Linked DNA regions of Homo sapiens. The protein of the gene in region 1 interacts with the protein of each later gene in a pairwise test. Each region holds a gene or a part of one and is shown in the gene's direction. Other genes may lie near its edges.

Region 1 (7,030 bases):
ATGGCAAAGTGCTTCCAGTGGACTGCATGGTGGCTACCGAGATACGTCCACATCCTGATCCCTGGAACCTGTGACTATTACCTTCTATGGAAAAAGCTGTAATGAGGTTCTTGAGAGGAAAATAGATCATGAATTATCTGGGTGGTCCCTAGATACAATCACTCGTGTAAGAAAGAGGCAGAGGGAAATCAGACAGAGACACATACAGAAGAGGAGGCAGCAATGTGACGAGGGAGGCAGAGATGAGAGAGCTGTTGACACAGCCCAGGAGTGTTCCCAGCTACCAGCAGCTGGAAGAGGCAAGGACCTGACTGCTCCCTGGAGCCTCCAGAGGATGCACAGCCGCACTGACACAGTTTCTCATTCCTGGCCTCCAGAATTGTTAGAGAATGAATACCTCTTATTTTATGCCACCCAATTTATGGTAACAGCAGTGACAGGAAACTAACAGTATTTTTAAAAATATGTTAAGAGGGCCGGGTGTAGTGGCTCACGCCTGTAATCCCAGCACTTTGGGAGGCTGAGGCGGGCGGATCACGAGGTCAGGAGATCGAGACCGTCCTGGCTAACACGGTGAAACCCCGTCTCTACTAAAAATACAAAAAATCAGCTGGGTGTGGTGGTGGGCGCCTGTAGCCCCAGCTACTCGGGAGGCTGGGGCAGGAGAATGGCATGAACCCGGAAGGCAGAGCTTGTAGTGAGCCGAGATCGCGCCACTGCACTCCAGCCTGGGCAACAGAGCAAGACTCCGACTCAAAAAAAAATGTGTGTGTGTGTGTATGTGTGTGTGTGTGTGTGTGTGTGTGTGTGTTAAGAGGGCCGGGTGCGGTTGCTCATGCCGGTAATCCCAGCATTTTGGTAGGCTGAAGCAGGTGGATCATCTGAGGTCAGGAGTTCGAGACCAGTCTGGCCAACGTGGCGAAACCCTGTCTTTACTAAAAATAGAAAAAAATTAGCTGGGTGTGGTGGTGTGTGCCTATAATCCCAGCTACTCAGAAGGCTGAGGCAGGGGAATTGCTTGAACCTGGGAGGTGGAGGTTGCAGTGAGCTGAGATCACGCCACTGCACTCCAGCCTGGGCGACAGAGCAAGACTCCATCTCAAAAAAAAAAAAAAAGAATTGAGCGATTGATCTCATGGCTGGCTATAGGATCAGGTAAAGAAAGCTAACACCCACAGCGAGGTCTGGTAAAGAAGTCACACTATTCTGTCTTCTCTTGCCTTGTCCCATCAACCCAGCCAACACACGTTGACTATCCCACTGAATCAGTGGAGATATGCTTCATTTAACCATTCAAGATGCCCACAAGCCTTTCTGGGAAGGAGATTGGGTGTCGGGCTGGAAGAAATGCTTCCTCAGATCGCCAGAAAGGGTGTTTTTCTCCAGTTACTGTTACATTCCAAGTTGCTTTCTTCTTTTTCTTTTTCTTTTTTTTTTCTTTTTTTTGTCCCCATAGAGACAAGGTCTCACTATGTTGCCCCAGTCTGGTCTTGAACTTCTGGGTTCAAGCTGTCTCTCTGCCACAGCCTTCCAAAGGGCTGGGATACCGGCATGAGCCACTGTGCCTGGCCAAGTTCCAAGTTTCGTATCTGTTAGGTCTCAAAGGCAATGTCAGCCCCCAAATTTAAATCTATTAATGATATTTTGGCTTGTACATGGTAGCTTATGCCTGTGCATGGAAGATTGCTTGAGCCTGGAAGTTCAAGAATAGCCTGGGCAATGTGGTGAGACCTCGTCTCTACAAAAAATTAAAAGATAGCCAGGTGTCGTCATGCATGCCTGTAGTCCAAGTTACTCGGGAGGCTGAGGTGGAAGGATGGCTTCAGCCCAGGAGGTCGAGGTTGCGGTGAGCTGTCATCGTGCCACTGCCCTCCAGCCTGGACGACAGAGCGAGAGTTAATGAATGAAAACAAGTTTTACAAACTAAAGTTTTATATTAATACATAACTTTTGCTGTCATGATTATAATAATCATAGGGACATAGGGTTTTTTTGTGTTTTTCTGAGATGGAATCTCACTCTGTCACCCAGGCTGGAGTGTAGTACTTAGATCAGTGTTATCTTTCCCTTTTTTGTTATTGGACTGTCAGCCTTAAGCAACAGGGCTTTGCTTTTTTGATAGGTGTGTTTTCTAGGCCTTCCATAGGATCTGTTCTAAAGAGTTCAGATTACATAAACTTTCTAAATAATGAGAAATTCCTACTGAGAAATTTTATGCAAAAATAACACAGTATTTACCTCTGTCTGGACGGTTACCAGTTAATTACATGAAAAAATATAAAAACTGTATTTGATCATTTTGTAACTTTATGTTGCAAGTTCTTGTGTAAGATGATTAAAAAGAACAAACTTTTTATAAGATCTTATTTTTTCCATTTAGATAATCTGAGTCCAGAATAACAGTAAAAACACATAGGAAGTACTTATAGTTTCCTGAGTAGCTGGGACTACAGGCGCACACCACCATGCCTAGCTAATTTTTTGTATTTTTAGTAGAGATGGGGTTTCACCATGTTAGCCAGGATGGTCTCAATCTCCTGACCTCGTGATCCGCCTGCCTCGGCCTCCCAAAGTGCTGGGATTATAGGTGTGAGCCGCCACGCCCAGCCTTCAAGTGAGCCTTTTACCTTAGCCTCCCTGGTAGCTGAGATTATAGGTGTTCTCCACCATGCCTGGCTGTAGAATTGCAGGGTTTTTAAGGGATTATAGGTTCATTCTGTAGCATATAGCACCAGTGGTGAAATCCAGATATCTTTAAAGACTTCTTTGTATGTAATACTTTAATGACAGTGTATTACAAAATAAAAACATGTTTTAACACAGATCTTATTTGAAAGGGAAATCAGATTTGTAAATGTCTGCAGTTGTAATTCTCAACTTTGTTTGCTATAGCTAAACGGGAAGAGGAAACATTATCTCCTTCTGAGATTGATTGTTTTTTTTTTTTTTTTGCTAGCAGTTAGGAGTCTGCAGTTTCTTTTTGTTGTTGTTGTTGTTGTTGAGACAGAGTCTTGCTCTATCCCCAGGCTGAAGTACAGTGGCGCAATCTCGGCTCACTGCAACCTCCACCTCCCGGGTTCAAGCGATTCTCCTGCCTCAGCCTCCCGAGTAGCTGGGACTACAAGCACACACCGCTACTCCCAGCTTATTTATTATTTTTAGTAGAGACAGGGTTTCACCATGTTGGCCAGGATGGTCTCCATCTCGACCTCATGATCTGCCCGCCTCACCTTCCCAAAGTGCTGGGATTACAGGCATAAACCATCGCTCCTGGCCTCAGTTTCATTGTTACACAGTCAAACTCCACTGGCATTAAAAAACGGTTCGAGAAGGCTAAACGTTTAACTTTAACTTTTCCTGGCATTTCCACATTTTATCAGAATATGAAGGCTTAATTTTCAGCATCTACAAAGATGCTATTTCCTAGTATAAATGTGATAGGAATGAAGAAGTTGGTACTCACTGACTCTAATAACTGACAGTCCCAGGGTTGACTGATGTAGCTGGATCCAAGGGTTTGCTCATCCAAACTCACTCTCTGAGATACCCCTAGCAACACTTGGCCTTCACTGGCCTGGCTTACGTTCATCCTAAAACCACAATGACCTGGGATATGCAGGGCTCTAACTGGCCATGTCTGGGCCCCTTGTTTGGCTCAGTGGTAAAACTGCCTCTTAGGGGCTTGAGATTAGGTGATGGGGCAGTTGTTTTCAATTCAGGTGCTACTGCCAAAAGAGGGGTAAAATAGATACTGATCAATAGTGTTGGGTCATTGATTTTCTTATCTGAATTTAGTGTCAAAGGAGAAGCCTTTCAGCATGTGGTATTTTAAACTGAGTGCCAAATTGTGGTCACTTTGGAAACCACATTTAAAAGATGCATCCTAACCAATATTTCCATGTTTTTTAAATACCTGATATTAGATTTGTACCATTTGTAGAATCTATGTTATTAAGGCAGATTTAATCTTGAAATAAATTAATCTTCATGTGCTTCTGAGACTTTTTTTTTTTTTTTTGCTAGCAGTTAGGAGTCTTCAGTTTCATTGTTAAGCAGTAAAACTCCATTAGACATTTCATACTGGCCATATGAAATAAGACTGAAGTCTAAAACATTCCTGTTTTTCATTTACATGTCAAAGTATGCATAATGGCCATGTGTGGTGGCTCACACATGTAATCTCAGCACTTTACAGTACTTTAGAATGCCAGGCAAGAGGAACACTTGAGGCTGAGTTTGAGACTAGCCTGGACGACATAGGGAGACCCCATCTCTAAAATATATATATATCTCTTTTATTTAGCCTAGGGCCAGGTGTTGTGACTCACACTTGTAATCTCAGCACTTTGAGAGGTCAAGGCAGGAGGATTGCTCGAGGCCTGGAGTTTGAGACCAGACTGGTCAGGATGGTGAGAATCTGTCTTTACAAACAATTTGAAAATTAGCTGGATATAGTGGTGTGCCTGTAGTCCCAGCTGTTCAGGAGGCCGAGGTGGAGGATACCTTGAGCCCAGGAATTTGGGGCAGCAACGAGCTCTGATCTCACCACTGTACTCCAGCCTGGGTGACAATGCAAGGCACCATCTCTTTTTGAAAAAAAAAAAAAAAAAAAAAAAAAAACTGCAGTGAGCTATGATTGGATCATATCACTCCATACTCCATCCTGGGTGATGGAGCTAGACCCTGTTTCAAAACAATATATAATGCCTACTAAAAGTTCTTATTTTAAGGTTGTATGGTATATAAGTAAAATAACATAGTGGAACCAATCTGTATTAGTTTAAATCCTGCATCTGCCCATTACTAACTTAATCATTCTGTGCTTCAGTTTTTCCTTCTCTAAAATGGGGATAACAAGGTAATCTAAAAGGTTGTATGTGGGGATGAAATAAATTTATCCATGATCCATATAAAGGTGCTAATCATCAACTAGTCACAGGCATATAGAGCCCATATGTTTGCTGTTATGTCATGCCTTATTGCTTTTTTTTTTTTTTTTTTTTTTTTTTTTTGAGACAGAGTCTCCCTCTGTTGCCCAGGCTGGAGTGCAATGGCATGACCTTGGCTCACTGTAACCTCCACCTCCCAGGTTAAAGCAATTCTCCTGCCTCAGCCTCCCACATAGCTGGGAATATAGGCACACACCACTACGCCCAGCTAATTTTTGTATTTTTAGTAGAGATGGGGTTTCACCATGTTGGCCAGGCTGATCTCAGACTCCTGACTTCATGTGATCTGCCTGCCTCAGCCTCCCAAAGTGCTGGGATTACAGGCATGAGCCACCATGCCCGGCTCCTTATTGCTTCTTATTAAGTGTCTTAGAAATTATTTGGAATTTCTTATACTAGAATTTAACTTTAAAATTTTGTCTAAATTGTTTTGTTTATTTTGGTAATGATATTGAACCTCTAAGGAATGAATGAAATAGTCTCTCCAGAAAGGAGCTGAGCTGAGCAGGGAGTCGGAAACCATACATGTTAAACTAAACACATGATACTACAAAGGGTAGGAGTGGTGCAGAACGCCAACTACTGTGTAAACCATGGAAACTTCCTTGGCTAGTGCTGTACTCCCAAAGCCCTTGCCATGTAAATGCCAACTATGTCTGTGTGAAATAATAACTTGGACCATCTTAAGGCTTTTTTTCCACAAAGTCCTTGTGGAATTTGAAATCATTTTTGTGGCTGCTGAGAATGACATTTAGAGACTATAACATTTCCTTTTATTCACTTTTTTTTTTTTTTTTTTCAGTGTTTGAAAGATGTATGGTGATCTTGAAACCTCCAGACACAAGAAAACTTCTAGCAAATTCAGGGGAAGTTTGTCTACACTCAGGCTGCAGTATTTTCAGCAAACTTGATTGGACAAACGGGCCTGTGCCTTATCTTTTGGTGGAGTGAAAAAATTTGAGCTAGTGAAGCCAAATCGTAACTTACAGCAAGCAGCATGCAGCATACCTGGCTCTTTGCTGATTGCAAATAGGCATTTAAAATGTGAATTTGGAATCAGATGTCTCCATTACTTCCAGTTAAAGTGGCATCATAGGTGTTTCCTAAGTTTTAAGTCTTGGATAAAAACTCCACCAGTGTCTACCATCTCCACCATGAACTCTGTTAAGGAAGCTTCATTTTTGTATATTCCCGCTCTTTTCTCTTCATTTCCCTGTCTTCTGCATAATCATGCCTTCTTGCTAAGTAATTCAAGCATAAGATCTTGGAATAATAAAATCACAATCTTAGGAGAAAGAATAAAATTGTTATTTTCCCAGTCTCTTGGCCATGATGATATCTTATGATTAAAAACAAATTAAATTTTAAAACACCTGAAGATAAATTAGAAGAAATTGTGCACCCTCCACAAAACATACAAAGTTTAAAAGTTTGGATCTTTTTCTCAGCAGGTATCAGTTGTAAATAATGAATTAGGGGCCAAAATGCAAAACGAAAAATGAAGCAGCTACATGTAGTTAGTAATTTCTAGTTTGAACTGTAATTGAATATTGTGGCTTCATATGTATTATTTTATATTGTACTTTTTTCATTATTGATGGTTTGGACTTTAATAAGAGAAATTCCATAGTTTTTAATATCCCAGAAGTGAGACAATTTGAACAGTGTATTCTAGAAAACAATACACTAACTGAACAGAAGTGAATGCTTATATATATTATGATAGCCTTAAACCTTTTTCCTCTAATGCCTTAACTGTCAAATAATTATAACCTTTTAAAGCATAGGACTATAGTCAGCATGCTAGACTGAGAGGTAAACACTGATGCAATTAGAACAGGTACTGATGCTGTCAGTGTTTAACACTATGTTTAGCTGTGTTTATGCTATAAAAGTGCAATATTAGACACTAGCTAGTACTGCTGCCTCATGTAACTCCAAAGAAAACAGGATTTCATTAAGTGCATTGAATGTGGATATTTCTCTAAGTTACTCATATTGTCCTTTGCTTGAATGCAATGCCGTGCAGATTTATGAGGCTGCTATTTTTATTTTCTGTGCATTACTTTAACACCTTAAAG
Region 2 (7,030 bases), on another chromosome or scaffold:
AGGAGGTTCCCCGGAAGCTGTGGTGTAGTTTTTTGAGATCTTGCTCATAGAATTTAGACACCTGGTTACCCCTAGCTGTAAGGGAGGCTGGGAAGTATAGCTCTAGTTTGTTATCCATGTACCAAGCTAAAAACCAGGGGTTCTACAAGCAAGGAAAGAAAGGACATGTGGTGTGCAACTAGGAGTCTCTACCATGTAATGAACCTTTCCCTGCAAATGCCATGCACCCATCTTCCCACACACAGAGCACTCTCACCCCTGCCCTGGGTGCCTCATCCTGTCCCAGCATCCAGCCCCCAAGGTCAGGCTCTCCTGGTGATACGCAGCCCTCACCATTGGGTCTTGAAGTGACTCCTTGGAATTTTAAACCAAAATGTTAAACTTTGGGTGGACTTTTTAACTTTTGGTGAACTTTAAACCAAGAGGCAGGCTGTGTACCCCCACACCCAGTACTGAGCAGTGGAGAGAACATCGTCAGCACAATAGACTCCTGTTTGGAAGAAATGGGAACACGCAGCGGGAGCAGGCCTGGCCCCCAACAGGTCCTGCCGGGTGGGCTTGGTGAACCTCCCTGTGCCCTGTGGAGGAAGCTGCCAGGGAGGGCAGCTTCTGGTGCTCTCTGGGAGGAACGCATGTGTCCTTGGTGAAATCACGTGCTCTGTGCCTGACTCCCGCTCCTGAAGAGCCGTCCTTGTCTGTACTCTTCCAGTGCCACCAGGGAGGGGGATTCCCTTTTGAGACCTGCTTACTCTAGAAGAATGTCTAGAGGAGCCTGGGAATTGGTAGAGGCTAACACAAAAGCCAGCTGTGGGCCAGGCTTGGAGCTCCTTTGGATCCATGAGTCCAAAACTGCCCCTACAAGCTCATCCAGATGTGGGTTCAAGGCAGCCTGGCCCTTCTGCCTGCAGCTCTGCCTCTGAACCAACAGCTTGGGGGCAGGGAGGTGACCAATACACTTCCTTCAGGTTTTAATGTGAAATTGCCTAATTTTGAAATTGCAACAACAATTTTGAAATTGCAGTTTAGATGTCTGAAAGTCATAGTTCAGCACAAACAAGCATGCCTACACACAGATGTGGCTCACAGGAGCCCCAGTGGAGGGTGCTGTTGGGTGGGGGATTAAGGGCCCTTCCACTGATGTGGGCTGACATGAGGGTCTAAGCATCCCGCTTCATCTTGGCATGCATGACCAATAGCCCACACATCTGGAGGAGAGCTGGTCACAGCTGGAGAGCAGGGCTCCTGCAGGGACCGTGCGAATGAGCTGGGATCCTGGGGTAGGACAGAGGCTCAGGACACTCTGGCTGACTTCACTGCCCACCCACAGTGGGGCAAGGTGGGGGGTCAGGGCTGGCTCAAGACCTGGGTCTTGTTGTGATCCCAGAAGACAGGGCTGCCCTGCCCTGTGTGGGGCTCTGAGGAGGGAAGACTGGCCTGGAGCGGGACAGGTGCTAGGGCTGTGCCTGCCTCCCCTGCAGACTCCACCAACCGGGACTCGCTGGACATGATTGAGCGCTGCATCTGCCTTGTATGCCTGGACGCGCCAGGAGGCGTGGAGCTCAGCGACACCCACAGGGCACTCCAGCTCCTTCACGGCGGAGGCTACAGCAAGAACGGGGCCAATCGCTGGTACGACAAGTCCCTGCAGGTAAGCCGTCCAGGTGGCCCTGCAAGAGCACAGCCATGCCCCCAGCGAGAGAGTGAGTAGGCAAGCGGGCACAGCCTGGTGCCCAGGCCCGCACGTGCTTGTGTCTGGCAGGCGCACTCACTGGTTTCTGCTGCCTAAGAGGCTGGGTCTGAGGGGTCAGGAGAGCTGGAGGGGTCTGAGATGTGCTGTTGATGTCAATCTCTGGACCAGCCAGAACTCTTCTCAGGAGCCAGTGGCCGAACCCAACTCAAACTCCCTAACCTTCCTGCAGCCTGTGCCAGGAAGGTCTGGGCCAGACCTGGGGCCCATTTCCCATCACCCATCACACCTGTGAGGTGGGGGTGTGCCAGGAGTAGGAGAGTATAACAGCCCCACTGAACAAATCCTTAATGCATGCTGAAATAATAATTTCTGATGCCCAGAGCTGTCAGCTTTTTGGATGTCCACCCCCGTGGCCTGGCGATTTCAACATACCTCCCTCAATCCCTGAGAAGTAGAACAGCCCAGCATCTCCATGGAAGAAAGACTGTAAGATGAGATAAAATAATTCATATATGTTCATTTACATGACATCAGCCTAGAAGCAAGAAATTTACTTTGACCTAGAGAAAAATACCCATGCAGACGGGATGAAGTCAAGGTCAAACCATTCATTCCCATTCTGCCATCCTCCTTTTATTCCCCCAACATGCCAATCCTGAACCTAGTCTTGTTTATTTTAAAGTCACTACACTTTTATATGATATGCCATGTAGTATAAAACAGCAGGCAAAAACAAAACATCTCTCTACTTTGGGTTAGCAAAGCTCACATTGATAAGCATATCTAGACAACACCTCGTTTTCCTTTCTCTCTGTCCCTACATTCTGCAGGTTTTCCTTTTTATTGGTTTGCATATTGATTCTGTTATTTCTGATGCGCTCTCCAGCTGCTGGGCCAGCTGTTTTAGCCTCTACAGTGGTGCTAATGGCTTATCATCTTTCATGGAGCTGTGGGGGTGAACCGATATAATACATGCACAGAATCTGGAACTCAGCCTTGGTAGCAGTTTTCAAAAGACACCGCTTTCCTTCCTTCCTTCCTTCCTTCCTTCCTTCCTTCCTTCCTTCCTTCCTTCCTTCCTTCCTTCCTTCCTTTTAGTGACAGGCACAGATAAGTACTAATGTGGGGGGTGGGTGCAGCCCTCTCCACCACCTCTCATGGGTTAGTCTATGCTGACCTCCAGGTTCTTTTCATCAGCAGGGCAGATTATCAGGCGAACCAGAGAAGCCAGCAGGGCTTCATGGACCTGAATTCAAGATGATGGAGAACTGGTCTCAGGATAGCAAGGCAGGGGACACTGGGGGCGGGAGGGGAGGGCCTGCAAAGGGTGAGTTTGGGGAGAAGCTCTGTGGGAAGTGAGTTTCTTTGTAGAATGGGAGTAAAGATCCAGCCTCTGGCACACAAGGCAAGAGATTGGGAGGAGACCCCGATGTGAGCTATGACAGGAAACAGGGCTGAAGGGCCTCACCCAGGCCCCAAGGGCAGCTGGGCAGACTCGTCCTGAGGATGAACTCCTCAGAAATCCCTGGACTGCTCAGTCCGGGAACTTGGGGCTCCACCTTCACTGCCCACAGCTTTTACGGGAAAGAGGTCGTGAGTGCAGAGTAGTCTTGGATTCTCATATTCTCAGGCCACTGCAATCACATGCAGTGTTCTCTTCAGGAAATAATGTGCTCTGGTGTCCCTGGAGAAGAGGTGCCCTGAGAAGCCAGGGGCCTAACCTGGGGCCAAGGGGCTGCCTTGCAATGCTGACTCTCCCATGATCGCCCACTCCCTCTTTCCTGTTGCAGTTTGTGGTGGGCCGAGACGGCACCTGCGGTGTGGTGTGCGAACACTCCCCATTCGATGGCATCGTCCTGGTGCAGTGCACTGAGCATCTGCTCAAGCACGTGTGAGTCTGGATCCCAGGGCTGCCATGCTGGGCCCAAAAAAATGTGGGTGGTCGCTGGGGGCTGTGTCAGTCTGGAAAGCGTCTTAACAAAAGATGAATTTGAAAAAAATGTGTACTATACACACACACACACACACACACACACACACACGATGAATTTGAAACCCAGCTTTGTATGCGACATCATGTGCTTCACGGGCCATGGATAGGAGGCAGCAGATTTACGGCAGTCAGGGAGAAGCATGGCAAGGAATTCTCAGGAACCTCTGCCTTGAGAGAGGGGAAGCCTACATCGATACCTATTGCTTATCCTGAGTCAGGGCCAGGCCCACGGCTGCCCCAGCACAGGGGGAGTTCTCTGAGTCTCACTGCTTCCAAATCCCAAGGCTGGGTCCCTCCTTAGCTCCCCAGCAGGGTTCCTCTGTGCCCTAAACACATGGTATTCCTTCCTCTATTCCCAATTTTACCCATTCTCTCCTAGAATCTTCTCCCTGCATCCAAGTCTTCAATTTCTTCCATGAAACTCAGGGTTACTGAAACCTAAACCAAGCCTAGTAGGCACAAACCTTGTAGAAGAGAACAACACAGCTTGCTCTTAAATTTCTCTCCAAGTCTTCTGTAAGGGTGTAACATGGTCTAATAGGAAAACAATGAAAAGAAATAATGGGTTTTGGAGTCAGGCGGAACTGGATGGAGCCCTGGCCCTGCCACTTAATGATTTTGGTGGCCTCTCTGAGCCTCAGTTTATTCATCTGCACGGTGGTTCAGGGGCAGCTCGTACCCCCTGAAACTCCATGGCCGCAAACACTGACAGCTAAGATGATTGCACAGAGCAAAGAAGAGATGCCTCCCACAGCTGTCTGGCCGCAGAGCCTCAGGAGGTTGCCTCTGTGCCCGCAGGACGCAGAGCAGCAGGAAGCTGATCCGAGCAGACTCCGTCAGCGAGCTCCCCGCCCCCCGGAGGCTGCGGTGGAAATGCTCCCCGGAAATTCAAGGCCACTTAGCCTCCTCGGCAGAAAAACTTCAACGGTAAGGATAACCGAAGTCTCCTTTGAGGGGTCCCCTAGGGACCACCCCGCCCTTGCCTACTAGCTCCCAAGGCTCCCTGGAAGTTTCCAAAGACCCCAGCTCCTCTGCCTCTCCTTGGGCTCCACCTCGTCCCCATCCCTCATGTAGTCAAATTAAAGGAGAGATACAACTCTGGGGAAATAACCTTGCTGAAGTATCCATCATTTCTCTAAAATGCAAACGCAGGGCTATTTTTTTTTTTTTTTTTTTTTTTTTTTTCAGTTTCACCTGACTGAGCAGAGTCAAGGCCGGGAAATCATCCCCTGCTTTAGGGGGAGTAATAAACAACTGGTTTGAATAGGTCATTTGAATTCAAGCTATTTAAATTTGCTTGAATGTACAGTGCAACTTGACAAAGGGGCCTTTTTCCCCAAGGGGAGGGGGCCGTTCAGGCCCTAACGGGACCCAGGCAGGAGGGCCTGGGGCAGCAGCAAGCAGTGGTGGCAGCCACATCCTGGCAACCACGTCTGCACTGTAGCTGTTGATTCTCCCATTCAGTAAGCAAGCACGAATGCATTCATTCACTGGTTTGCTCATTCATTCATCAAACATGTGCAGAGCTCTGGTGTGCACCCGGCCCGTGGTAAGGCTCTGAGAACACAGAAAGTTAAGTACCATGGGACCTGCACTCCATATTTGAGTGGAATAAGTAGACTCCCAGGCCAAAACATGTGATACAGTAAGATTAATGCCAAAAGCAGAAACAGCCATGCTGACCTGAACCCACAAAAATATAGAAGCTGAACTCTGTCAGGACTGTGAGGGAGGGCCTTGTAGAGACGGGCCTTGAAGGATGGATAGGAGTTCATGGTGCAAGCAGATGGGGAAGAGGCAGAAAGGCAGCTTCTTCAAGCTTGTACAAGTTCATAATGATGAAGGCTGGTTTGGAGACCAGCAAGTGAGAGAATGGCCAGAGTGGGGCCACAAAAAGGAAGTTGGGCCACACTGTGATGAGTGTCACTGTCCTGTTATGGGCCTAGAGCCTGCCCTGCCACTGGAGGGTTCTGTGCAGGGGGTATGGGGACGCCCCTGAGGAGGCTGTGGGAAGGGCACATGTGAGCAGGACAGAGTGTGGCCAGGCTGGGAAGCTGAAGAGCGGGAAGGACCCATCCACTGGGAGCTGCTGGAGAGGTTGCCTGGCTTCAGTGGGCATGGAGGGGCCTCAGGTGTTCTATAAAGTGGTGCTCACATCTCAGCTTTGCAGGGTTGTTCAGGAGCTAAGTCAGGGGCCAAGGCAGTGAGCTGGTGGGCTGCTGAGTCCTCAGTGGGTAAAGGAGTCCACTCACTTCCAGGGACCTGAGCAGACCCCACATTCCCCAAGGCCCCCAGCTCCACCCTCCAGAGGCTGAGGAGAGCCAGGAAAGGCCCATGGATGGGGAAGAAGGAGGCTTCTTCCTGGGGGTCCTGAGGGGCCCATACAAGTGGGTGAGGCCCGAGTGGGCACAGCTTGGGGGAGAGATTTCCAGGTGGCTGTGGTGATAGTGAGCTCAGTCTGTCCCAGACGTCTGTCAACAGGTAGGTCTAAGGAGCGAGTACTCATGGGAACTGGGTCTCCTCCAAGTCCCCCTGTGTTCCTAGCACCTGGCCCCACCGAGAGCTGAGCTGCTGTGAGCAGGAGGAATACTTCAAGGAGAGGCAGGCAGGGAGCATGGAGTCCCGACAGAAGGTGTGCGTGTGGGCTCGGGGTTCCCACTCAGGCTATGCGCTCTCCAGTGGGGAGGCACATAGACCTTGCCAGACACTGCTCCAGTGGGCAGTCAGCTCAGACCCCAGACTCCTGATGGAGGAGGAGATTGTTCAATATGAGGGTCAGCCAGTGCTCCAGAGTCTCAGTGCAGACTTGGAAAATGTTCCTGTTACTCCGACAGTGAATTACAAAATCCCGGGCATGTCACCTGTGTCACAGTTAATCCCTGACTCACTAACACAGCCAGGCCCACCTCCCCACCCACTCTCCAGAGCAGGGCCGACACCCCACTCAGCTGAGCTCACCTTGGGTCATAGTAGTCCTGGCCTGGTTTGTCTTCTGACACTTTCATAGGTCAAGGCATGTCTCTGACACCTCAGTGCACTCCTGAAGGGCAGGGACTACGTCCGCACCTTCCAGAACGCTAGGACACAGACCAGGCTCTAGAAGCCCGGGGAAACCCCAGATGCATGCATACTGTTTTGCATGCAATAAAAACATCTTTTCTTTTTCTTCCTCAGAATAGTAAAGAACCTTGACTTCATTGTCTATAAGTTTGACAACTATGGGAAAACATTCATTAAGAAGCAGAAATGCAGCCCTGATGCCTTCATCCAGGTGGCCCTCCAGCTGGCCTTCTACAGGTGAGTGAAGGTGGAGTGAGTCTGTACCCTGGAGGGCTGACGGACACAGT
Region 3 (5,976 bases), on another chromosome or scaffold:
AGCAACCACTGTCTACTTTCTGTCTCTATGAATTTGACTATTTGAGGTACATCACATAAGTGGAATCATATATTTGTCCTTTCATGTCTGCCTTATTTCATTTAGCATAACGTTTTCAAGGTTTTCCTGTGTTGAAAATATATCAGAATTTCATTCTCTTTTTAAGGTAGAATCATATCATTTTAAAACATTTCAGTTGGACCATCTAAGTTCAGTCCTTCATTTTCAAAATTAAAAAACAGGCCTCAAACGGGTACATCTCACGTTAGCTAGAGACAGAACTGGAGCTAGAAGTCAGATCTCTTACAAAGTTGCCTTTCTTCTTCTGTGGGTAAGTGGGGCACCCTTGGGACGCTGTGCTGGGCGTACATGGGTGCTTGATGAAGTTACTTGGTGGACTGATGTGATTGATGTCCAACATGTATGCAGGGACAGAGGCTATGGTCCCTACAGAGCAGGCATGGAGAGAAGGAGAAATACATACGGGCAGGAGCCAGGAGAGGGAGGGTGTAGTGAGCAGAGACCGCGCCACTGCACTCCAGCCTGAGTGACAGAGTGAGAATCCATCTAAAAAAAATTGCTTGCTAAAGAAGTGGTCTCCTGAGGTCTTAAGACGTTCCTGACAATGTCTTGAGTGGGTGGGAGAGAGGCTGCAGTCATTGTGCTGTGGAATTTCAGAGGTGAGAACCACACCTAACCAAAATTACTTTCCCTGTTTGCCTCAGTGACACAGCTGCAGGAACCCTGGTGGGTGTTGTATTAAGTAAATTTGACCTTTATTCTTTGCAGATCTGTGAAATGTTGTCTTCTGAGGGGCCACGTGTATCTGTAGTGCTGAGGACTCCTTGGGCCTCTGAAGTCACAGAGAGAACCCTGCAGGGTGGGGGACCAGTGTGTGACAGCCCTGCTTTGCATTTTCTTTGAGAAGTGCTGTCATTTTGCATTTCTCTCCACCAGGGCAATCTTCAATCTTGAGAGGTGTGATCATAACTTGCCTTGTTTCTTGTCGCTACAGAGAACGGAAGGCTCCCTTGATGGAACTTAGACAGCAAGGCCAGATGCACATCCCTGGAAGGACATCCATGTTCCGAGAAGAACAGATAATCCCTGTATTTCAAGACCTCTGTGCACTTATTTATGAACCTGCCCTGCTCCCACAGAACACAGCAATTCCTCAGGCTAAGCTGCCGGTTCTTAAATCCATCCTGCTAAGTTAATGTTGGGTAGAAAGAGATACAGAGGGGCTGTTGAATTTCCCACATACCCTCCTTCCACCAAGTTGGAACATCCTTGGAAATTGGAAGAGCACAAGAGGAGATCCAGGGCAAGGCCATTGGGATATTCTGAAACTTGAATATTTTGTTTTGTGCAGAGATAAAGACCTTTTCCATGCACCCTCATACACAGAAACCAATTTTCTTTTTTATACTCAATCATTTCTAGCGCATGGCCTGGTTAGAGGCTGGTTTTTTCTCTTTTCCTTTGGTCCTTCAAAGGCTTGTAGTTTTGGCTAGTCCTTGTTCTTTGGAAATACACAGTGCTGACCAGACAGCCTCCCCCTGTCCCCTCTATGACCTCGCCCTCCACAAATGGGAAAACCAGACTACTTGGGAGCACCGCCTGTGAAATACCAACCTGAAGACACCGTTCATTCAGGCAACGCACAAAACAGAAAATGAAGGTGGAACAAGCACAGATGTTCTTCAACTGTTTTTGTCTACACTCTTTCTCTTTTCCTCTACCATGCTGAAGGCTGAAAGACAGGAAGATGGTGCCATCAGCAAATATTATTCTTAATTGAAAACTTGAAATGTGTATGTTTCTTACTAATTTTTAAAAATGTATTCCTTGCCAGGGCAGGCAAGGTGGCTCACGCCTGTAATCCCAGCACTTCAGGAGGCTGAGGTGGGCGGATCACCTGAGGTCAGGAGTTTGAGACCAGCCTGATGAAACCCTGTCTCTACTAAAAATACAAGAATTAGCCGGGCGTGGTGGCGCATGCCTGTAGTATCAGCTACTCAAGAGGCTGAGGTGAGATTATCGCTTGAACCCAGGAAACGGAGGTTGTAGTGAGCGGAGATCGCGCCACTGCACTCCAGCCTGAGTGACAGAGTGAGAATCCATCTCAAAAAAAACAAAAAACAAAATTGCTTGCTAAAGAAGTGGTCTCCTGAGGTCTTAAGACATTCCTGACAGTGTCTTGAGTGGGTGGGAGAGAGGCTGCTGTCATTGCGCTGTGGAATTTCACAGATGAGAACCACGCCTAGCCAAAATCACTTTTCCTGTTTGCCTCAGTGACACAGCTGCAGGGACCCTCGTGGATGTTGTATTAAATAAATTTGACCTTTGCTCTTTGCAGATCTGTGAAATGTTGTCTTCTGAGGGGCCACATGCATCTATAGTGCTGAGGACTCCTTGGGCCTCTGAAGTCACAGAGAGAACCGAGCAGGTCTATGTTTTTGTTTTGTTGTTTTGAGACGGAGATTCGCTCTTGTTGCCCGGGCTGGACTGCAGCGGCGCAACCTCTGCTCACTGCAACCTCCGCCTCCTGGGTTCAAGCAGTTCTCCTGTCTCAGCCTCCCGAGTAGCTGGGATTACAGGCACATGTCACCACGCCTGGCTAATTTTTGTATTTTTAGTAGAGATGGGGTTTCACCACGTTGGCCAGGCTGATCTCGAATGCCTGACCTTTGGTGATCTGCCCGCCTTGTCCTCATGTGTGCTCCACAGGCCTTTGGGTTGGGATTGCAGGCGTGAGCCACCATGCCCAGCCTAGACTCTTTTGACAATATGATGAAAGCTGTTGGTTCCTTTCCCCAACACACACACACCGAGTTGTATCACGAAAATGTCATACAATTTCCAGGTTTTCTGAGTGGTGGGCTCAGATTGAGGTCAAAGGATCAGACGACCTCTAACGACCTTCATGTCTCTGTTGATGATCTGGGGACAGCCAGATCCCCTGTGTCCAGGGAGTTCCTTAGTCCCTTGCCACCACCAGAGAAGGGCAATTGCCACGGGAGCTGCAAAGACCCTATTCCTACTCCTGGTGCCTTACTTATGCAGCACGACTGAATTTTTTGTTTTGTTTTGTTTTGTTGAGACAGGGGCTTGCTCTGTTGCCCAGGCTGGAGTGCAGTGGCACAACAATGGCTCACCGCAGCCTCGAACCCCTGGGCTCAAGCGATCCTCCCATCTCAGCTTCCTGGGTAGCTGGGACCAGAGGCGTGAGCCGCCATAGCTGGCTAATTTTTAATTTTTTTTTTGCAGAGATGAGGTTTCACCATGGTGCCCAGGCTGGTCTCGAACTTCTGGGCTCAAGTGATCCTCCCTCCTTGGCCTCGCAAAGTGCTGGGATTGCAGGCATGAGCCACCGCCCCCGGCCTGTGGAGCACACATGAGTTTAAAATTACTTTCCCTTCTGCCTATATTTCCGAGGAGGAAACTTCATGCGCAGGGATCTTTCTTAGTGGATTTAATGGCTAAAAGGTCTGTCTGAATCCAGGACGCTGGCTTTAGCCTTCCTCGGCAGCTGCCGTAACCCCGGTGTCTAAACCTGAAGCATCCCAGGAGCACCCACTCCAGGAGTTTTCTCGGCCGCGGAACTCATTAGTTAGAGCGCCCTCTTGTGTTCTCATGTGGTAATCGGTCACTGAAGGACTTAAAATGGTCCTTAGCCAACACACAGTAAAACTTTTCCCTCTTCTGACCCCAAGAGGTCAGCCACCCATTTCATGAGCATATACTGGTCGCCCCATCAGCGTTCTCTGATTGGCTAACTGAACCCACTCCCCGACCTAGACTCAAGACAGGCGAAGTGACGCTTAGGTCAACATTCACTCACTAAAGCAACGACTGTCGGGCGATTTTGTCTCCCGCTGGTTTTGGAATGGTGTCTGGAGACATTTTTGGTTGTCACAGCTGGGTGGGTGTGCTCCCGGCATCTGGTGGGTAGAAACCAAGCATGCTCCTAAACATCCTACAGGCACAGAACCGTCTCCCACGACCAAGCATGATCAAGTCCCAAATGCCAATAATGGCCAGGTTGAGAAACTCTGCACAGAAGCATCCAGTTATTTGTCTGTTTGCTCAACAAGCTTGTGCTCATCATGCTCTGTGTTCCTGACGCTGTGCTGGGTGTTGGCGGTGGGAAGATTACAAGAGTCACATGGCAGCTGTCCTCCTGGAAGGTACAACCCAGTAGAGATGCAGACTAACAGAGAGCCAATTACAAAGCAGTGTGACAAGCGTCATGGTGGAAAATTAAAAGCTCAAACAAGGGCACATGGGAGGGGCTTCCAACACAGACTTTGGGGGATCCAGGAAGGTCTAAGAGGAAAGTGGGTCTCACCAAAGCCTTGACCATAGGCAGAGGGTACCAGTGGAAAAGGTGGGGTGAAGAACATTGAGGACAAAAGGAAGAAGTGCAGGAAGGCCCTGAGGCAAGGGAGTGGGGGGTGCCCTGGAGGGATGGCAGCAGGGCAGTCTGTCAGACCCAAGTGGCCTCCAGCCCTAGAAGCCAATTAGTCCTCCTCAAAAAGCTGTCACTGTCCCCTAAGAATTGCTGCCAGGCTCCCACTGGCCTGACTCAGTCTTTGAGAGTCTTAAGGAGGAGGTCTCTGAAAGGTACACACCAAGAACTCTCCCCAGCACAGCTGTTTTTAAGACTCTCCACCAGCGTCATTGGCGTGTTGGGAAGAAACCCTCTGCCACAGAGGCCAGCTTCAGCCTTTGCCTAACACCGCAAGGGCAAATGGAAAGGTAAACGGGAAGGAGATGTCTCCCCAGCAGGCTATTTGAGGACAGTCTTCCCTGCAGAAGATCTCAACCTGGGGTCCACAGAGTGGAAATGTTAGAGTAGGGAGCTAGGCAAACATGAGCAGGACAGGTGAGGGCCCCCACAGGAATGTCAGGCTACCATCAGGTGATGGTCAGGTGGTTGTTAAACTGTCTCTGTAAAATAATAATTGGTTGCAGCCAGCTCCAAGCAAGGACAGTCTCTCAATAGATACAAAACACCCTGATCTGGTGATCAGCCGCTTCCCGATAAGATCTCAGGAGCTGGGCAAGCAGCCTGGAGCATGCGCACCAAGAGGCAAAATGGCGGAATTTAACCAGTATATGACCTACCTTCCTCTGGGAACGCACGACTGGTAAGGGGAAAAATGCCTCAAGTGAGCATGCGCGCAACTTCAGTAATCACACTGTGCATGCGACCCCTTCCAAGTGCTGGCAGGTCACCACATACGCGGACAGCCTGCTGCAAGGGAAGAATCAGGGGAGATGAGACGTAAATCCCAGAACTATGCCAAATACATAAAACCCCAAGTTAAGGGTCAGGCAGGGCACTTAGATCTCTCAAGTTGCCTGCCTGACCCAAGTGTAGTGTACTTCCTTTTGTTCCTGCTCTAAAACTTTTTAATAAACTCTCACTCCTGCTCTAAAACTTGCCTTGGTCTCTCCCTGTGCCTTAAAACCACTTAAAACCACCTCTGCCCCTCAGCTGAGTTCTGTCTTTGAGAAGGCAAGCATCAAGTTTGCTGCAGACCCATTGGATTCACCACTGGTAACAGAAGTTGGGGTAAGGCGTGGGGCCTGAGAATTCTCTAAGAGTAGGTGCAGCCGGGCGCGGTGGCTCACGCCTGTAACCCCAGCACTTTGAGAGGCTGAGGTGGGTGGATCAGCTGAGGTCAGGAGTTCGAGACCAGCCTCAATATGGGGAAACCCCATCTCTACTAAAAATACAAAATCAGCCGGGCGTAGTGGTGCATGCCTGTAATCTCAGCTACTCGGGAGGCTGAGGCAGGAGAATTGCTTGAACCTGGGAGGCAGAGGTTGTGGTGAGCCAAGATCGAGCCATTGCACTCCAGCCTGGGCAACAAGAGCGAAACTCTGTCTCAAAAAAAAAAAAGAGTAGGTGCAAAAGGTTATGAGGGTGTGCAGTTTTCTATGGGAGAGAATCCATAGCTTTTATCC
Region 4 (7,030 bases), on another chromosome or scaffold:
CTTGTTGGCTTTCATGTCATTAAATTTTTTTTTGTTTTTTAATGAAAGCTTTTTTGTTTTGTTTTTACAAAAGCAATGCTTACTCACTGCAGAAAATAAACATGCAAAAAGAAGCACATAAAAGAACCCATCAGCTCATCTGCTAGTTTGCCATTTATTGATCAGGACTAACTAGATTCTTCCTCTTGGAAAATTTCCAAGATTGATTCCCTCCGCCTCCAAGTTCAGAGCAGGATTTGGAAAAGTAAATATTAATAATGTACCTAGATCTGATTTTTAAGAGGTTCCAGGATGAAATAGAAACCATTTTTCTATACAGCTGCATTTTCTGATGGCTCTTGGTTCAGTGTGGAGCCCAAAGTCCTCCCATATAGCTTTTTCTGTCAAGAATTTAGCAGTTGCTTGGTGGGTTTTGCACAAGTTACTTTTCTATATCAAAATGGATACCAATAATAGGTTTTTGAAAACTTAATAAATATTTGTAAAGTACCTAATATGTAGCTAAATCAATAAATATTTGTAAAGTACCTACTATGTAGCTAGAACTGTGCCTGGGTACTGTACGGAGTGCCAATGAAGGAGGACCTGTCCTAAATTTATAGTCTTATTAGCATTAGTGCTCTAGCTGTGCCAGTTTGACTTTGTAACTTTATAACTCTATCCCAGCTTCACCCATAACCTTTTAAAAACAGCAGCTTTAGAATAAGTACAGAAAAGGATTCTTAGAGGCTATATATTGGTCTTTTTCATAGAGATTAAATTATGCTGGTGTTTATTTGGATGAATTGTAACTGACCAGACAACTTTCCGAAGAGAAGCTATATGATTTAGAGGTGTTATAAAGTGGATAGTGGGTGAAAATCCTTTCTTTATATAATTGCCTAATTATGGTCCTTTTGTGATATCATAGATTTCAGGATTCTTCTGTGGTTATTGATTCTTATAACTAGCTTGACTTCTGTTTTTTGGTTTGTTTGTTTGTTTTTTTAGGGTTCAGAATTTTTTTTTTTTAGGTTTGAGGCTTTTCTGGGTGGGAAAAACCTCACAGAAATATTCTTAGTGTATGTTACTGGTAGGAGCCTCTCCCTTCCACACGTTTACTGAATGCCTATTGTGTCCCAGCCACTATATTAGGTGAAAGGGACAGAGGAATGGATAAGACAGATGAGGTTCCTGCTCTCATGGAGCTTACATTTTAATGGGAGAAGAAAGCTCAACAGATAAATAATATAATGTCAGATAGTGATAAACACTATGAAGAGGCCGGGCATGGTGGCTCACGCCTGTAATCCCAGCACTTTGGGAGGTCAAGGTGGGCAAATCACCTGAGGTCAGGAGTTCGAGACCAGCCTAGCCAACATGGTGAAACCCCATCTCTACTAAAAATACAAGGGCATGGTGGCCAGCACCTGTAGTCCCAGCTACTCGGGAGGCTGAGGCAGGAGAATTGCTTGAATCCAGGAGGTGGAAGTTGCAGTGAGCCGAGATCATGCCACTGTCCTCCAGCCTGGGGGACAAGAGCAAAACTCTGTCTCAAAACAAAACAAAACAAAAACACTATGAAGAAAATTACACAGGTAATGAGAAAGGAGAATGAGTAGATGATAGGAATGGGTGATGGTGGATGATCCTTCTTTATATTATGTGGTCAGAGGGCCTTCCGTTATCGGGTGACATTTGGGCAGAGACCTGGGTGTTGGCAGGAGGCCAGCCATGTGACCATCTGGGGAAATAGGAATAAATCTTATCATTTGCAAAATCTTAGGTTACTAGCCTATTTTCCACGCTTTTTTGTTTCCCCCTAGTTTTAGTCAAGTCTCTCCTATGGTAGCAGTCTCTAAGAGCAGAGACGATCTTATGTACTGTTACTTCCCATTGCCTACCTAGCATAGGGTCTGGTACATGGTTAACCCGTAGTGAATTTTTGTTGAAGATATTCATTGGTGGGCACTAGGGATATGGTGGTAAACTAGACTCATTTAGTCTCCTTTTTCTTCCATGAATTTTAAATGATGTTTTGCAAGAAGTTCTTTTGGATTGAAAACTTCAAGATCAGTGCTAAGCAGTACGGATAATTATACAGTAATTTACTAATGTATAATCCCATATAATAATGCTAGTTTCTTACCTGTACTCCTTCAGATATACCTCCGTAGTCTCGAAGGGGGTAATATGGAGAATTAGGAGTTCCTTGGTGAGGAGAGTTAGGTTTTCACAAAGTTAGGTTTTCTCTGAGAGAAAACAAGCACTAAGATTTTTCTATAGGCTTAACACATTTCATTTAACTGATAACTTTGATTTCGAGGTTCTGCCAAATTATTCTAGTTATAATAGAGATACTGTAAAGGACTGAAAAATTCTGAACCCTAAAAAAAAACAAAAAAAAAACGAAAAACAGAAGTCAAGCTAGAAGATAAGAAAGGACAGGCTTGTTAGTTTGTTAGTCATTGATTATCACATCTGATAGGGTTATAGATATTCAAATATGTCCCAAATACCAGATTAGTTTGTTAGTCATTGATTATCATATCTGATAGGGTTATAGATATTCAAATATGTCCCAAATATCAGATTGTCACATCTGATAGGGTTATAGATACTCAAATATGTCCCAAAAGAACAGCTTTCTTCCCCTATATCTTTGGGTAGATTTTGTCTATAACCAAGCATTATTTCGTAGCACTGGAGCTGATTTAAATGACCCTTGATGCAGGAAGGCTGCTCTTCTTTCTGTAGTGCAAAAGTATTCTGATCATAATTTCTTATTAAAGTGATCAGAGATCCCCTCAGACCCAAAAGTATACTTTATAAGTACTTGTTGGTATCCTGCTGTGCATTGTGAAAGAATTCTGGAGGTGTGCCAAACACTGCTCAACAATAAGCACTTTCCATTAGTTGAGTAGTGTTGAATCTTGTTTCCTTACCCACTCTTTGGCCTTAACAAATTAAGTCATTTTATAGCTTAAAAACATATTTTTATTAACTTTTAATACTCTTTTTCATGTGTTCAACATTCTTACTTTAAAATCATATTGCTTTTCTCCTTTAAGAAACTTACCAAAAGCAAGGGTATAAAGTAACTGAATGCAATGAGTGTACCTATTATTAGGAATTATAAAGGAGAAACAGTTAATCTGACTTAAACTTGTAGGAAAACCATCACTCTGAATAGAAAACAAAGATAAATAGGTACCGTATGCCTCTGTGTCCTGTATTTTAAAAAGACCTTTTGCTCAACATCATTCTAAATTCATGAGTTTGAGGACAAGAGTCCAGAATTTAATATGATGAAAGTAAACATAAAGCTAAAACTTGGGAAGGTTCCCTTTAGGTGCTGTGTTTACTAAAAAGGAGACTTGTAAATTGGTATCTAACTTGTTTGGCAAATTTCTTTTAGCTCTGAAGGGTTTATATGCTTTCAAAGAACCTATTGGAGAAATATGCACTATAATTCTAAACAAGGGTAACTTGCCCAAAGTCTCACAGCTAGGAAGTTGGACTGCCAGATTTGAGTTCTAGCTCTTCCACTCCAGGAATGGGGACTCTTAATCACTTCATTATATAATCAATCCATTGTATCTTGGATCATTGTTTGGTTTCTTTTTATTGGTTTTGTTTTATTGCTAGCATTATGTTCTTCCCCCACCCCTAATTTTGTGTGTTTATGTTTTCAGCTATACTTTGGGTCAAATAGACTTGCAAAAACCTAGCCACTTTTTGCAGTGTCATACACTTGGGGAAGTAAGGTCTGTGTTCTCTGTGAGAGGTTTTTTTTTTTTTTTTTGACAGGGTCTTGTTCCATTCCCCCAGCTGGAGTGCAGTGGAGTGATCTTGGCTCACTGCAACCTCTGCCTCATGGGCTCAAGCGATCCTCCCATGTCAGCCTCCCGAGTAGTTGAGACCACAGGCATGCACCATCACACCCAGCTATTCTTTTGTATTTTTAGTATAGATGGGGTCTTGCCATGTTGCCCAGGCTGGTCTTGAACTCTTGAGCTCAAGTGATCTGCCCCCCTTGGCCTCCCAAAGTGCTAGGATTACTGGTGTGAGCCACTGCCCGGTCAAGGTCTGCATTCTAAAAGAATTTACAAATGACCTTTTTGGAAAACAGGATTGAGAGGATATTTGACTTTGAGAACGGTTGATTTTGAGGCATACCTTTTTCTTTTATTTAGAGAATAAACTCTCAGCTCTAAAATTACACACTCTAGAATATATTCATCTATGGTTTTTTAATGTCATAAAGCCTTTTAAAAATTGGGTATTGTAAAATCAAACACAGCAATAAGGATGGAAATTGCTTGCTAGATACTTTTTAATAAAGTGTAAATATTTCAACTGTAAACTTACCTTTTGGGAAAAGCTCTGTTCCTAGCTTGACATCCATGTCAAAATTTATTGAAGTGAAACCCAACATGGGGTTTGAGGGAATATCCAGAAGACTGATATGTTCAAGATTTGGAAGAGCTAAAGGACTGGCCTCTCTGTAATTAGATTAAGCTATGTTTTGGGTCCCTATTGCAGTGTGTTTTCACCTTGATATAATTAATCAGTATTTATTGAAAATCTAATATGCATTCAGCACTACTTGGAATGATAGGAGATAGAGGAAAAGTAATACACATGGTGTCCCCTACCATGACACTCATGATAGATGACATTCATATAAAAGACACACTGCTAGGGGTTGTGGGATACATCAGATCATCTGATCAAGGGAGCATACTGGAGTTCAAACGAGTGACAGAAATGTTATCTAAAGGGAATCTTGAATCTATCCATATATATCATTCATTCACAGACTTGGTACTTTTTTTATTAGTAACAAATTACTTACTGTATACTATAATTTACCATGGCACACCAGTTTGTTATGAAGTGACAGTTGAAAACTGCTGTGTTGGAGCTTATGACAGTAGGAGGGACAGGATTTACTGCTATAAAATAACTGAATAATTCAGGATAATGTAAAATATACTGAAATGGGATGTGCATTATTACTGCTCCTTGAGGGCTTTTATAGTCAGGGAAAGCTTTGTGGAGAAAATGGCTACTGAAAAAACAGATAGCATATCAGCCCAGGTTCTTAATTGCAAGGAAGAGAAATACAATCTGATTGATTTTAAGCAGAAAAGAATTTATTAAAAAGAACTGGGATATAATGCATACCCTTTGGCCCCACAGTTTCATTCCTAGATATACAGCCAACATACACGCATACATGTGTTTACTAATATGTGCAAGAATGTTTGCAGCAGTGTTTGTAATAGAATCACACTGGAAACTAAATGCCCATTAAAGGTAGCATAGATAAGTAGTTTTTTTGTTTGTTTGTTTTTGTTTTTTTTTGAGACAGAGTTTCATTCTTGTTGCCCAGGCTGGTGGAGTGCATTGGCATGATCTTGGCTCACTGCAACCTCTGCCTCCCGGGTTCAAACGATTCTCCTGTATCAGCCTCCTGAGTAGCTGAGATTACAGGCATGTGCCACCATGCCCAGCTAATTTTTATATTTTCAGTAGAGGTGGGATTTGGCCATGGTGGCCAGGCTGGTCTCGAACTCCTGACCTCAAGTGATCCACCCTCCTTGGCCTCCCAAAGTGCTGGGATTACAGGCGTGAACCACCCCACCTGGCCTGTATTCACCTGATCATAGAAGGTTATACAGCAGTGAGCACAGACTGCAATTATGCATAACATGGGTGAATCTCACAAAACCTAAAATTGAGGAAAGAAAGCAGACACAAAAGAGAGCATAGTGAATGATTTTATTTATATCAAGTTGAAAAATGGATAAAATTAATCTATAGTGTCAGAAATCAGGATAATGGTTACCCTTGGGAAGGGAATAGTAACCCTTGGGAAGGGAAAGGGAAATAAGGAGGGCTTTGGAAGTGTAGTTGACCCTTGAACAACACAAGTTTGAACTGTGTGTGGATCTACTTATACATGAGTTTATTTCACCTCTACCACCCTGAAGACAGCAAGACCAACCCCTCCTCTTCCTCCTCCTCGTTATGATTTTTTTTTTTTGAGACGGAGTCTCTATCTGTTGCCCAGGCTGGAGTGCAGTGGCGCGATCTCAGCTCACTGCAACCTCTACCTCACAGGTTCAAGCGATTCTCCTGCCTCAGCCTCCCAAGTAGCTAGGATTATAGGTGACCACCACCAAGCCCAGCAAATTTTTAGTGGAGATGGGGTTTCACCATGTTGGCCAGGCTGGTCTCGAACTCCTGACCTCAAGTGATCCGTCTGCCTCAGCCTCCCAAAGTGCTGGGATTATAGGTGTGAGCCACCATGCCCAGCCCTCCTTATGATTTTCTTAACATTTTCTTTTCTCTAGCTTTATTTTCAAAACACAGTATGTAACACATATATAACATACAAAATATGTGTGAATCGACTGTTTATGTTGTTGGTAATGCTTCCAGTCAACAGTAGGATATTAGTAGTTAAGTTTTGGGGGAGTCAAAAATAATATGCAGATTTTCAACTGTGCAGTGGGTCAACACCTGTTAATGTTCTGTTTCTTGACACAGGTGGTTTTGGTTTGTGAAATTATTTGAGCTGTAGACTTAATGTTACGTGCACTTTTCCCTTACATCTGTTATACTGTGCCTGTTTCTGTACATATGTTACATATCAAATGTTTATTAAAGGGGTATATTGGGTAACTCAGAATTTCTGGTGCTCCTGGCTATATATACCAAATCCCAGTTCAGGATTCAACAACCCAGATCATGCTGCTGAACTGCACTACCACTGCCAAGTGTGAAATTGAAGCTTGCTCTGCTGGCCTTGTTGCCTGGGAGCTTGATCCTGCTTCTGTTACTCCACACCTGTCTCCCTCCCTGTTCCATTCCTGGCTCCATTTGCAGCCCTCCTTTCAAAGTGTGGGGTGGATACCTTTGTTAGGCAGAGCCTAGCACAAGTGGTCCTCCTTACTGCAAGGGAGTCTGGGAAAGCAAGTATCCAGTGTTTTCAGCTTTTATAGTGGGTGGTGATTTCTGCCAGAAATTGTAACAAGGGGAC

What was found.
Region 2: the proteins of ESRP1 (region 1) and CHAT interact in binary tests that used the Homo sapiens proteins (3 or more experiments, as listed by UniProt).
Region 3: the proteins of ESRP1 (region 1) and PECAM1 interact in binary tests that used the Homo sapiens proteins (3 or more experiments, as listed by UniProt).
Region 4: the proteins of ESRP1 (region 1) and LAMP2 interact in binary tests that used the Homo sapiens proteins (3 or more experiments, as listed by UniProt).

Annotation. Positions count from the first base shown.
Region 1 is NC_000008.11:94,700,174-94,707,203, forward strand, and holds part of ESRP1 (epithelial splicing regulatory protein 1), read left to right. Parts: intron 1-5,751; coding exon of another isoform or gene 5,752-5,772; 3' UTR 5,773-7,030. UniProt on the Homo sapiens protein: mRNA splicing factor that regulates the formation of epithelial cell-specific isoforms. Specifically regulates the expression of FGFR2-IIIb, an epithelial cell-specific isoform of FGFR2.
Region 2 is NC_000010.11:49,645,027-49,652,056, forward strand, and holds part of CHAT (choline O-acetyltransferase), read left to right. Parts: intron 1-1,478; coding exon 1,479-1,648; intron 1,649-3,480; coding exon 3,481-3,581; intron 3,582-4,481; coding exon 4,482-4,610; intron 4,611-6,857; coding exon 6,858-6,980; intron 6,981-7,030. UniProt on the Homo sapiens protein: Catalyzes the reversible synthesis of acetylcholine (ACh) from acetyl CoA and choline at cholinergic synapses.
Region 3 is NC_000017.11:64,318,885-64,324,860, reverse strand, and holds the end of PECAM1 (platelet endothelial cell adhesion molecule precursor), read left to right. Parts: intron 1-1,015; coding exon 1,016-1,045; 3' UTR 1,046-5,446; downstream 5,447-5,976. UniProt on the Homo sapiens protein: Cell adhesion molecule which is required for leukocyte transendothelial migration (TEM) under most inflammatory conditions.
Region 4 is NC_000023.11:120,459,274-120,466,303, reverse strand, and holds part of LAMP2 (lysosome-associated membrane glycoprotein 2 isoform A precursor), read left to right. Parts: intron 1-7,030. UniProt on the Homo sapiens protein: Lysosomal membrane glycoprotein which plays an important role in lysosome biogenesis, lysosomal pH regulation and autophagy.